2 linked regions of the Homo sapiens genome follow. The protein of the gene in region 1 interacts with the protein of each later gene in a pairwise test. Each region holds a gene or a part of one and is shown in the gene's direction. Other genes may lie near its edges.

Region 1 (7,518 bases):
CTACTAAAAATACAAAATTAGCTGGGTGTGGTGGCACATGCCTGTAATCCCAGCTACTTGGGAGGCTGAGGTAGGAGAATCACTTGAACCCAGGAGGCGGAGGTTGCACTCCAGCCTGGGCAATAAAAGTGAAACTGTCTAAAACAAAACAAAACAAAACAAAACAAAACAAAAAAAAAAAAAACAAAAAACGCTGTGGTATTGCTAAAAACAATAATTTGCTTCCTGATGTTGTGGAAAATCATAAAGCAAACCTAACTATCTGAACACATGTGGTGGGTTAAATATGACATTGGTTTTAATATTTTTACATTATAGAAATTGGGGAGTGACTATTGTTAAGCAGAATAAAAGTGAGATGCTAAACTATATATGGTAGGGTACGGAAGACTATTATAGATCATTTTAGGCCTAGAGAGTCAGAAATTCTAAAATCCTCTCTTACTTCGGCTACAGTTTCCTATGAGATTTTCAAGGGAAACATTTGTGGACTGGGAAATGGCAAATGTGAAATAAGGTACCACTTTATTATATGCTGTGCTTCTTCCTTTATGTCCAGTGCAAAGCTCCCTGGTAAACTGAGTTTAAGTGTGAGAGAACCTCCTCACACTTATCTCAAACCAAAATCTTAGGATCTCTTTGTGACCAGCTGCATGGTGAAGAGATGAGAGCCTGGTATCACTGTAAGAAAAAATGAGTCAAGGTAGTGTGACCTCCTTCCAAGTCAAGGTGAAGGGTGGGTCCATAGCTTGTCTTCTACATAACTGGTGTTGTGAGTGAGGCACTCCTGCTCTCCTTCCCCTCTTCTCTCCAGTTCCCTTTGCCACCGCCCCCCCCCCACATTCCTTCTGCTACCCACCTTCCTCCCTTTCCCTTTTTCACCTCTCTTCTTTCTTCTCCACCCCTCCTTTCTCCCTCCTCCCTTACCCATCCCCATCCCCTTCTACCTTTCCCTTCCTTTCCCTCCATGCCATGTTCCTTTTCCTTGTTCCATTGCTCTCCAAAATCTTGAATGAGTGTCCTCCAACAGAAAAGCTAAGATGTGGGAAATACATCAGAATGTTAATAATAGTTATCTTTTTATTAAATTGTCCTTTTCCTTGTGATCCTCTACTTTCTTCTATGATAAGCATCCCTCTTTTATAGTCAGGAGAAAAGGCTAGATTTTTATAGTATAACACACTTTAATATTTATTTATTTTAGGTTGCAATACAAGAACATGAAAAACAGTATCAAATGAAGTGATCATTTTCAGTGAAAGGGAAGGTAGAACACAATACAAAGAAAACACGGTATCTTTAGTTTACAATTACACAATATAAGATGAAGAAACTTTTTCAAAAATACTATGTTATATTAACACCTCAGTGGTAAACAATAACATCATTATGATTAAATTTATAGGCCACTATATGTCACATACACAAGGTCTCAGTTGAATCAAATGTGGTCTTTTCACATTAGATGTATGCTAATCTTTTTCAAGCAGTCAAACTTCAAAATACACTGTTTTATTTACTATAAGTACTGGATTTCTATAGCAAACTAATGAAGGCACAGCTAGTGCAAGCAGATTTAAACCCTTAGTCTTATGGGCTGGAAAAAAGAAAAAAATAAAACACTTGCATTGGTACTTCATGAACTTTTTTTTTCAAGCAAATATTTGTTTCAGTTAACAATTCTGACAGTTTCACAGCTACAGTCTAACAGAAACATGACCAAAGGACATCACAAAAATCAACACTGTGTAGCACCAAACTAACATGCTTTAGATAATTGACAACAGCTTACATATTTTGAAGAATATTATACTACAACAGCCTAGATAGAATAAACTGGCACTTAGACACTTTTTAGGACTATTTTTAAAATATAGACTACCAAGAAACCACAAAAACTTGACTATAAGGAATAATAGTGTTCAGGTTACAGGTCAGGGTTTTACTTTTTTCAAGGCTGTATGAATCTGCTTCACTTCTTGAGATTTTAAGATTCTTGAAAAATCTTTCAGATTGACTTATTTTCTGTATTTCTTGTTTCCATAATGTTTGCCAAATTGATAGTAGGTACCATTGACTTCTCCAGTATAGTAATAGATTGATTTCAGGATGACATTATCATGTAAAATCTGCCCAATTTCAAAGTCCTCATCCAGGATAGCATCTTCTCGTGGTTCCAGCTTCCCAATCATAGGAATCTCAGGAGGACTAAAGAAGTTGAAGAATGATGCATTAGGAACCACTCTTGGCTGGATTTCAATTTCTCCAGTAGCAGTTGTGCGACTCTGGGTAGTTGTCACAGTAACATCTTTTCCTCTTCTCCAGTCTATCTTGCAGCCTTTGCAATCTTCAATTTCCCATCCCCAAGAAAAGAAGGGATCATTGTGATCTGGTTTTGCCTTTATTATATATGTCTTCACCAGCACCTCATTTCTGAAGTATGGGTTGGGTAGAAAATGAAATTCAAAGGTGTAACTTACAGGCTGGCCAGGTTTTGAGAACTTCAGGCTAACATCCGACAAGAACTTCAGAATGGGCTCATCATACTTCTGAATCATAGGCCCGAGCTTGTCAACATTCTTTAAAACAATCAGCCAATAGTCAGGAATGCCTTTAGGGTCTTCTCTTTTAGGCTTTCCCTTCCTAGCTCTTTTAAGATCTACACTGTCCTGAAGCCTTTCCTCAGGAACTCTTTTATGAGTCTCTCTTACTGCAGCCCTTGCCTTAGCCTCTGTTGCTTTAGGCTGTTCTTTATCATCTGCCTTTACCTGGGGGACTTCTTTAGGATCTTCTTTTACTTCAGGGGTTGCCTCCATACAGTCTTTAGAATCTGCTTTTTCTTCAGCCTTTACCTCAGGAATTTCTTTAGGAACTTCCTTTTCTTCATCCTTCACCTCAGGAATTTCTTTAGGAACTTCCTTCTCTTCAGCTTTCACCTCTGGGTTTTCTTTAGGGTTTTCTTCTTCCTCACCCTCTAAGGGAGGCATTTCACTAGGGGTGTTATCCTGCACCTCCTCATCACTGCTGAACTCCTCATCCTCTGAATTCCATTCACATTCTTCTTCTGTAGGCTCGTATTCTGCATTGATGATTTGAAACCGCCTATCATACAGAGGCTTGTTGAGTTCAGCATATTTTCTTTCAAGATCATGAATTGCTTTTAAGAACAGGGTATCTACCTTGTCACATTCATCTTGAATGTTTCTAAGCGCTTGCACACGATTTCTAACTGCCTGAGGCAGCCTATCCACGAAATTTGTTCCCAACGGGGCCCGCCGCGCCCTTCTGGAAGGCTCAGGTACCCTCTTCTTTCTATACAAGCGGCTGCGGCTGCTAGTGCTGCCGCTGCTGCTGCTGCTGCTGCCGCTGCCGCTGCTGCTGCCACTAGTGCTGCTGCTGCTGCTGCTGTCACTAGTGCTGCTGCTAGAGCTACTGCTGTCAGATTCTTCCCCAGAATCACTAGTCGAGCTAGCCATCTCCTCTTCGGCAACCCCATGGGCGACAGGTTCCGAGACCATTTTAAAATCTGCTTCTGCCATCTTGCAAGCCTACAAACTCTACCAGGGAGACCGCGCGACCAGAGATGGGCAGAAAATGACTCACGGATGCTTGAGTGGCGGCGGCGGAGGCCCGGGCTGCGGAGGTGGCAGCGGCGATGGCAGCAGCGGCGCAGAGCGGAGCTGGAGCTGGGGATGCAGAGGCCGGCGCTGAGGTGGCAGCGGCAGTGGAGGCTTGGGCGACAGCGGTGGCGGCAAGGCCTCTCCCGGCTGCAGCTAGAGTGCCGAGATGTACCGCAGCCGAATGGCGCAGTATGAGACCCCGAGATCTCTTCTCGTTTTAGATCGCGAGCCCCCTCCCCTTGCAGTCAGACCTCCCGTTAATTTCGTTCCCAGTGTGCCTTTAGTTCGCTCCTCATTTGCTGGTCCACCTTAATTGACAAACTGTACGCCCAACGAACGGCCAAACGCCACTACTCCTGGCTCCGCCCACCTTCCCAGACGCCGCTCGCTGGCTGAGGTGCGACCCCTTGGAAGGTGTCCCCCTGCCCCCCAAAAAGTCTATATTTATAGTTTTATAATTAAAAAAGAAAAAAAAGCGTAGACATGAGGTAAAAATACCAGCCATAGTTCCTAACAAGGGCAAAAGAGGCGTGTCTTCCTTCTCCCATCCGCCCACCCTGAATTCCCGTTTAGTTTGTCACGGGTCTCTTGACAAAAAGCTGTAAAAAAAAAAAAAAAAAAAAAAAAAAATTGAATGAAAATGGTCCAAATGGCGTCATTGGGTAGTGTGACTATGGACGATTTAAAAACAAAACGATTTTCTCTAAATATTCTATGAGCATGCATTTTTACACTGGATAAAAAAGGGGAGAGTCGGTTATTGGCAGAGGAGGGAGGGACTAGACAGCAGGCGTATTGCATTCCACGAAGCTGATTTAATAAGTGCTGTCTGTGATGTTTGGCAAGCCTGGTTTATATCCATCTACAAGGTTTGCGAACCCATGTTGCCGTGAGTCAGTTACACCATTTTTATTATATTTCTCTTTTTAGGCTGGCATATTATATACCCCAACCTTGCTGCTAACTTGCCACGTAGCCCTTCTCAATGCTTGTAACAACCTTGTAGATAAAACAAAGAGGTATTAAATGTTAGGTAGTATTGTTAAAAAGCAAATGATTTGCGTTATACTTTTGTGCAGCAGGTTTCAATTCCAAGAACAGTGGGATGGGAGGGGGAATTTGTGCTAATGAATGTGCATCTTCTGTCAGTGTATGCGATGTCATCTGCCACCAATTTCCTTCTAATGTTGTAAAATTCTAGCCATACTATAGTATGATTTACAAGTCCAGTAATATGTGAATAAACTTTTGCAAAATGAAGTTTAAAAACGAGTATTTGTTATTTTTATTTACAGGATTTTTTTTTCTGCTACAGAACAACTCCCTTGGTACAATAAAAAAGACGAGTATTTACTTTTCATTGAAAGGTAAGGATCATATTTAGCACATTTTAAAGAATGACAAAAATTACTCATCTCCATCTGAATAAAAGTTTACAGGATACAGTCATTTAAAGATTTATTTTAGAGAATTATCTTGATAATTCTATGGAAACAGGAAAATCCACAGAGGTAATTTGGCATACTAATGTAGACAATTACATACTTAACCGCATTAACTATCTAAACCTGGTCATAGAATACAAGTGGTAAATTAAAATATGAAATATGATAAATTATTCATTTCAAATGAGGAAATGTATTAAAGTTAGATTAATCTTTATAGAATTTGTGCTTTGTCATGTAATCACGTTTTTTAAAAGTTAGGAAACGCTTTTCTGTTTCATAAATGCATTTACTTTTATTGTTTATCTCTAATTGTCAAAGTCTGTGAACATTGCAAAGATAAAACAATATAGAAAATTCCAACAGTAGTAAAAACACAAAATCTTAACCACCAAATGATAAGAATTACTAGCATTTTGATGCACTTCCTTCCAGAAATTTCCTTGTGCATATACATACCTGCCTATTTATGTATACTGCTTTATCTATGTGACACCATATTATGTTTTGTAATCTTTTCATTTAATTTATCAATTACTAATGGCTATATTTTCATGGCAAATGATCGACATCTTATTTTTAAGTAAGTGCATATTCCATGGAAATAATTGCCTTAATTTATTTGACCAGATTCCTGTTATAGGGTGGCCATTTCTATACCATCTCTCCCCTTAAATACATACTATTTTCCTGCTATAATCAAAGTGTCCCTGGATACCTAAAGCATGTATTTCTATGCACTTGTGAAAATTGGTCATAAGATAAATTCCTAGAAATGGATGGCTTGGGGATGATCATTTCATATTATGAAATTATTATTGTATACATATTGCCAAACTCTCTGCAGAATTATTATCACAATTTACAGTTCCAACAGTGCATAAAGTTCATTTTTTTGTTATTCAACTAATATATTTTTGTGCTTGTCATATGCCGGGCAAATGTGGTAGAGGATTGTAGTATAATGGTGAATGAAATTTACTAAGTGCATATCCTTTCGTTGAATAATTTTAATCAAAACATATGTTATAGAAACAATGATTTACGTCATTGATGTTATACCATAAATATTGTTCTGAAACTTACTATTTTTATTTTAAATTATGGAGATTTAAAAAAATGTATGCTCTTATGTTTTAAACTTTGTAGCATTAGGAATTAGTATTTTAGAGTCAGTCATGAGTTAGGGATCCAGATTTTTAAAATATTTATTTTTATTAGCTAGCTAATTCTTCTAGTACCATTTATTTGGTAATCTTTCTATCTCCTGCTTACTTGAAATGCTATTTTGATCACATTAAATAAATTGCTTGGGTCTGTCTCTAAATTCTTTTCTGATCCATTGGTCAGACGTTTGCTGCAAACAACTAATGAGTCGGTTTTAAGATAACTTTACATTTTGTGAAGATGATATGTGTTCATTGATAAAGTCAGGCAATACATTGAAATACAAAGAAGAAATTAAAAGTAACTCAAAATACCACTGAGAAGTAATCACTACTTACATTTGTAATCAACATCTCCAAATTAATTTATCAATATTATGTATTCATATTTCTTAGATTAGTGGTAAGATTGTCTTTTCATATGTTTATGTTTTTTTGAGAATTGTCTATTCATATTTTTTTGCCACTGAATTAAGCAAGAAATTAATCAATGGTGAAATCCTAAAGGTAAAATGATTTTGGCCTTGACTTAAGACAACTATGATTTCTTCAGGAAATAACGCATGATATTGGGCAAATGTGACTAAATTACTTTCAGTTACTTTCATATTAAAATTGGTTGTTTTTTTTTTTTTGGATACTTGTGGGGTTTTTTGGATGCTTTTCAAGGATTACAGATTACTACTTAACCACTCACACTGATCCTGGAAAAGTTTGGAATGGAACATGGAGATGAAAAATAGAAAAAAGCTTACAAAAACATCATACAAAAATAATGTACTAATCAACAATTGTTATTTTCAATTTGGAATTATTTTTTCCAGATATAGGCAATGAAAATGGTTGAAAGTAGATGACTTTTTCTAATCACAATTCTCTACTTTAATTGTGTATACATAGGGATCTTGTAACACACTTATTTTTGTAGCCTTTTTTTTTTTTTTGGTCAATTAGTTTCTTTAATTTTATGTAGTAGGTATCTAAAAGAAAATAAGCTTTTTCTTCATAATCAATTTAATTGATGCATTATATCCTATTTGTTCTACTGTGAAATATAAGTATTAGTTTTATCATATCATATGCTTGTTTTTCTTAATAAGGTTAGATATAAATTATTTGCATAGTGATATGTTTTTTTGTTCAATTAACATGATTTTTTGGCGGGGGGGCTAAATGTTCATGCTTCTACATGAGATGATACATAACACAGAATCTGATAGTATACTCAGACTGAACATAGTACATTAACATCTGTTGATACCTCCCTTAATATGAACATACACACAA
Region 2 (4,580 bases), on another chromosome or scaffold:
AGCCTGTATTTTTAAAGTAGCCCAGAGGTGTGGATTGGAAACCAGTGCCCTTCACCACTCTGGAAGCCTCTCTGGATTTTCCAGATTGTTCATTGAAACTCTGCTCTATCCTAATTAATGCTTATTTACATGATTGTACTAAAGGTTACCACAGGCTTCTAACATGGTTCTCTCAATTGGTACCTTTTTCCTACCACTAACCCTATTCAGAGCCTTCAGTGGCTACCAGAACCATCATATGGTTCTTATGTCCCCGCCTTTACCACGTCCCAAAGCTCCTCCCCTCCAGCGAGGTGTGTCTGGAGCTATGTGGGGGCGGGAGGAAGGGTGAAGTGTTAAGAGACCCAAAGCCCGGAGAGGTGCTGCTAAGCTGGTCTGGGAAGGGCTTTGGCAGGGCACGGGCGGGCAGAAGGCGGGCATCCCAAATCAACAACCTTGCCTAACGCTGCCCCTCTGCTACCTCTTGTCTCCCCTGCAGTGGGCTCCCAGGACAGCTTGCTGGAGATCACCTTCCGCTCCGGAGCCCTGCCCGTGCTCTGTGACCCCACGACCCCTAAGCCAGAGGACCTGCATTCGCCGCCGCTGGGCGCGGGCTTGGCTGACTTTGCCCACCCTGCGGGCAGCCCCTTAGGTAGGCGCGACTGCTTGGTGAAGCTGGAGTGCTTTCGCTTTCTTCCGCCCGAGGACACCCCGCCCCCAGCGCAGGGCGAGGCGCTCCTGGGCGGTCTGGAGCTCATCAAGTTCCGAGAGTCAGGCATCGCCTCGGAGTACGAGTCCAACACGGACGAGAGCGAGGAGCGCGACTCGTGGTCCCAGGAGGAGCTGCCGCGCCTGCTGAATGTCCTGCAGAGGCAGGAACTGGGCGACGGCCTGGATGATGAGATCGCCGTGTAGGTGCCGAGGGCGAGGAGATGGAGGCGGCGGCGTGGCTGGAGGGGCCGTGTCTGGCTGCTGCCCGGGTAGGGGATGCCCAGTGAATGTGCACTGCCGAGGAGAATGCCAGCCAGGGCCCGGGAGAGTGTGAGGTTTCAGGAAAGTATTGAGATTCTGCTTTGGAGGGTAAAGTGGGGAAGAAATCGGATTCCCAGAGGTGAATCAGCTCCTCTCCTACTTGTGACTAGAGGGTGGTGGAGGTAAGGCCTTCCAGAGCCCATGGCTTCAGGAGAGGGTCTCTCTCCAGGACTGCCAGGCTGCTGGAGGACCTGCCCCTACCTGCTGCATCGTCAGGCTCCCACGCTTTGTCCGTGATGCCCCCCTACCCCCTCACTCTCCCCGTCTCCATGGTCCCGACCAGGAAGGGAAGCCATCGGTACCTTCTCAGGTACTTTGTTTCTGGATATCACGATGCTGCGAGTTGCCTAACCCTCCCCCTACCTTTATGAGAGGAATTCCTTCTCCAGGCCCTTGCTGAGATTGTAGAGATTGAGTGCTCTGGACCGCAAAAGCCAGGCTAGTCCTTGTAGGGTGAGCATGGAATTGGAATGTGTCACAGTGGATAAGCTTTTAGAGGAACTGAATCCAAACATTTTCTCCAGCCGGACATTGAATGTTGCTACAAAGGGAGCCTTGAAGCTTTAACATGGTTCAGGCCCTTGGTGTGAGAGCCCAGGGGGAGGACAGCTTGTCTGCTGCTCCAAATCACTTAGATCTGATTCCTGTTTTGAAAGTCCTGCCCTGCCTTCCTCCTGCCTGTAGCCCAGCCCATCTAAATGGAAGCTGGGAATTGCCCCTCACCTCCCCTGTGTCCTGTCCAGCTGAAGCTTTTGCAGCACTTTACCTCTCTGAAAGCCCCAGAGGACCAGAGCCCCCAGCCTTACCTCTCAACCTGTCCCCTCCACTGGGCAGTGGTGGTCAGTTTTTACTGCAAAAAAAAAAAAAGAAAAAAGAGAAAGAAAAAAAAGAATGAATGCAAGCTGATAGCTGAGACTGTGAGACTGTTTTTGTCCACTCTTCTGAATCACTGCCACTTGGGTCAGGGACCACAGCCATTGCCACCCTTGGCCCATCTCTCTGCGTGCGTGCCTTGAGCACACATATAAAAAGTGCCATGTGCAATTGTCTTATCTTTTATGATCTAGGCTTTGCCTAGGGATCACTACTCCTTAACGGGCTGGCTGGGGCAATGAGGAAAAGCTCCTTTGCTCCTGTAAGGCCATAAGTGGCTGTTAACAGATTTTCAAATGCCTGAAGAGATTGCTGAGACCTGCTAGAGTCATATGTTCGGGGAATTAAGTCTTTATCCTAGACAACAAGGTACAGATGCAAACTGCAGTGTTATTGGAGGGTCAATCGGCAAGGATATGATTATCCCAAAATGGAGTTCATCGACCCTAGCTTTCCTTTAGATTATATATAAATAAAAGTGCAGTCCTCTTCTAATGGCCACAGTTGGTTTTCTTGTAGCCCAGAAAGTCCAAATTAAAGGAAATAAATTCAGTTTTATGTTAGCCTTCCTTGGTGCATCAGGGTGTCAGTGGAAATAGGATCAGGTGGTGTGTGTGTGTGTGTTTTGTGTGTGTGTGTACACATGTGTTTATATATACATGTGTGAGGGAAAGTGTGTACATATATGTAGGATTGTAACCAGACGGAAAAGAACGAGGATCTCCAGGGTGTTTGAATCAGCAACAGATTTGTGTTTTCTAACATGCATTTAGTTGGAGAGGCATGGTTCTGTTTGTTTTGTTTTGATCTAATTTGCCATTGGAAATAGGTACAGTTACACAGAGAAGGAAGAACCAGGAAAGTGAGATCCATGAAACTAAATGAGCAGCTGTCAGAATCCAGTGTGGCTGAGCCTACCTAGCTTATGAAATCTAACCCAGGGTTCCCTGAGTCCAAGACCACTTAGATTATTAAGATTTTGAACGTCCAGAGGAGTGAAAAGTCTGTTTTCTGACGTAAGCCGGAGCTGAGGATAAAGCCAGAGGCCAGTGGATTAGGTGTATGGAATGTGGATGGAGAGGGCTTGTGTGGGATGTGGCCAGGGAGTGGGTGAGGAAGGCCGCTTCTAAATGGCCTGTAAAAACTTGAGATTGGATAGACGAAAGGAAATGGAGAAATTAAAGAATTGGAGAAACTAGTTATCTGTGTTGCTGACTTTGGGACCCATCCAAGACTCCTGCCCTTGGGGTGTTCCATGGTGGTTTCTTCCTGCCTGGGCGCCACCCTTTCCCCAGTTCAGGCCCTCCCTGGAGGACTAGTTTGTGTATTGGTATCCTCCCCAGTGGACCCAAACCAGCGCATACTTGGTGTGTGGAGATGGGAGACAAAGGACAGATCTAGGAGCCTTGAAGGATCACCAGCCACCGACCCTCCATCAGGGCCAACTGGGCAGGAAAGGGAACATTGCAGACCTGATTTCCCGACGATGTCACCCTGTCCTCCCTCCTTGCTTCTTGCTCTGCTAACTCAACTCTGCCTTCCTCTTTTTCATTCTTCTACTCTGCCCTATATGGAGGACAAATGGACACCAGGGGTGCTAACCTTATTGGTGCCTGCCCCAGCCTACCCCAGGTGCCAGCAGACTCTCGTGCACAGGAGGCTCCCACAGTTATGGAGCCAGGAAAGAATTTCTCTGCACTGGATGGACTGTATATTGAGATTAAAAATTATATTCCTTATATTCCTGCTTATATCAATGCTCTCTCTGTAAAACCTCTTCCTAGCCTCATTTCTCTCAACTGATCTTGTTTAGGCGTTGTATTCCTTTTATTTACTCTTTGCTTGACTGCTTCCTCCTAACCCTCTACCCACTAGCACTCTACTTCCTAAAGCTGTTGTGTCATTAACTCTGTTGGATCAACTCTCTGGGAAAAGATTCTGTTAATGTAAGTGCACTTACTCCCTGGATGTTGTCACTAGTCTAGTGGCTTTTGCTAAATAAACCTTTCTTATTTCTAGAAGCTTTTCCATTGTCTTTTCTTGCTGCTTCTATTCCACCTGCTCCTTCTCTCCCCCTCACTTCCACCCCACTTCCCAAGCCAAGTGGCATCAGCTCTGTGAGATGGTTCCCAAGGGTATGGGATTGAGGAAAGATTCACAAGTTCCCTGTAGGAGGAGAGGAAGATGGTGGCTTCATTTGCACTTTATATAGATCAGCCCTGCGGGATCAGAGGTATCAGTGGTTCTTAACTAGGCCTGATTTTTCCTCACCAGGGGACATCTGACAATGTCTAGAAATGTTTTTGGTTGTCACAAAGCTACTGGCATGTAGTGAGTGAAGCCAGGGATACTGATCAATATCCTACAATGCACAGGACAGCCCCCCACAACAAAGAATCATCCAGCCCCAAATGTCAGTAGTCCTGAGATTGGGAAACTCGTCTACACCCATTTTTGCCGACTCTGCCAATCCCAGGTTTTTTCAAACTCCAAATATCATTAGAATATGTGGGTAGTAGCAGCCAGTTGGTTTTTTTGGTTTTGGGTTTCAGGGCTTTTTGTTTTTCAGGTGTTTTTAAGGCAGGGTCTCACTCTGTCGCCCAGGCTGGAGTGCATGATCATGGCTCACTGCAGCCCTGACCTCCCTGGGCTCCATGATCCTCCCACTTCAGCCTCCTGAGTAGCAGGACTACAGG

What was found.
Region 2: the proteins of FAM133A (region 1) and NOS1AP interact in binary tests that used the Homo sapiens proteins (3 or more experiments, as listed by UniProt).

The regions. Positions count from the first base shown.
Region 1 is NC_000023.11:93,669,766-93,677,283, forward strand, and holds the start of FAM133A (protein FAM133A), read left to right. Parts: upstream 1-4,440; 5' UTR 4,441-4,509; exon of another isoform or gene 4,510-4,639; intron 4,640-4,915; 5' UTR 4,916-4,987; intron 4,988-7,518. Other genes in the region: NAP1L3 (nucleosome assembly protein 1-like 3), read right to left, coding at 2,019-3,539.
Region 2 is NC_000001.11:162,366,574-162,371,153, forward strand, and holds the end of NOS1AP (carboxyl-terminal PDZ ligand of neuronal nitric oxide synthase protein), read left to right. Parts: intron 1-478; coding exon 479-894; 3' UTR 895-3,902; downstream 3,903-4,580. UniProt on the Homo sapiens protein: Adapter protein involved in neuronal nitric-oxide (NO) synthesis regulation via its association with nNOS/NOS1. The complex formed with NOS1 and synapsins is necessary for specific NO and synapsin functions at a presynaptic level.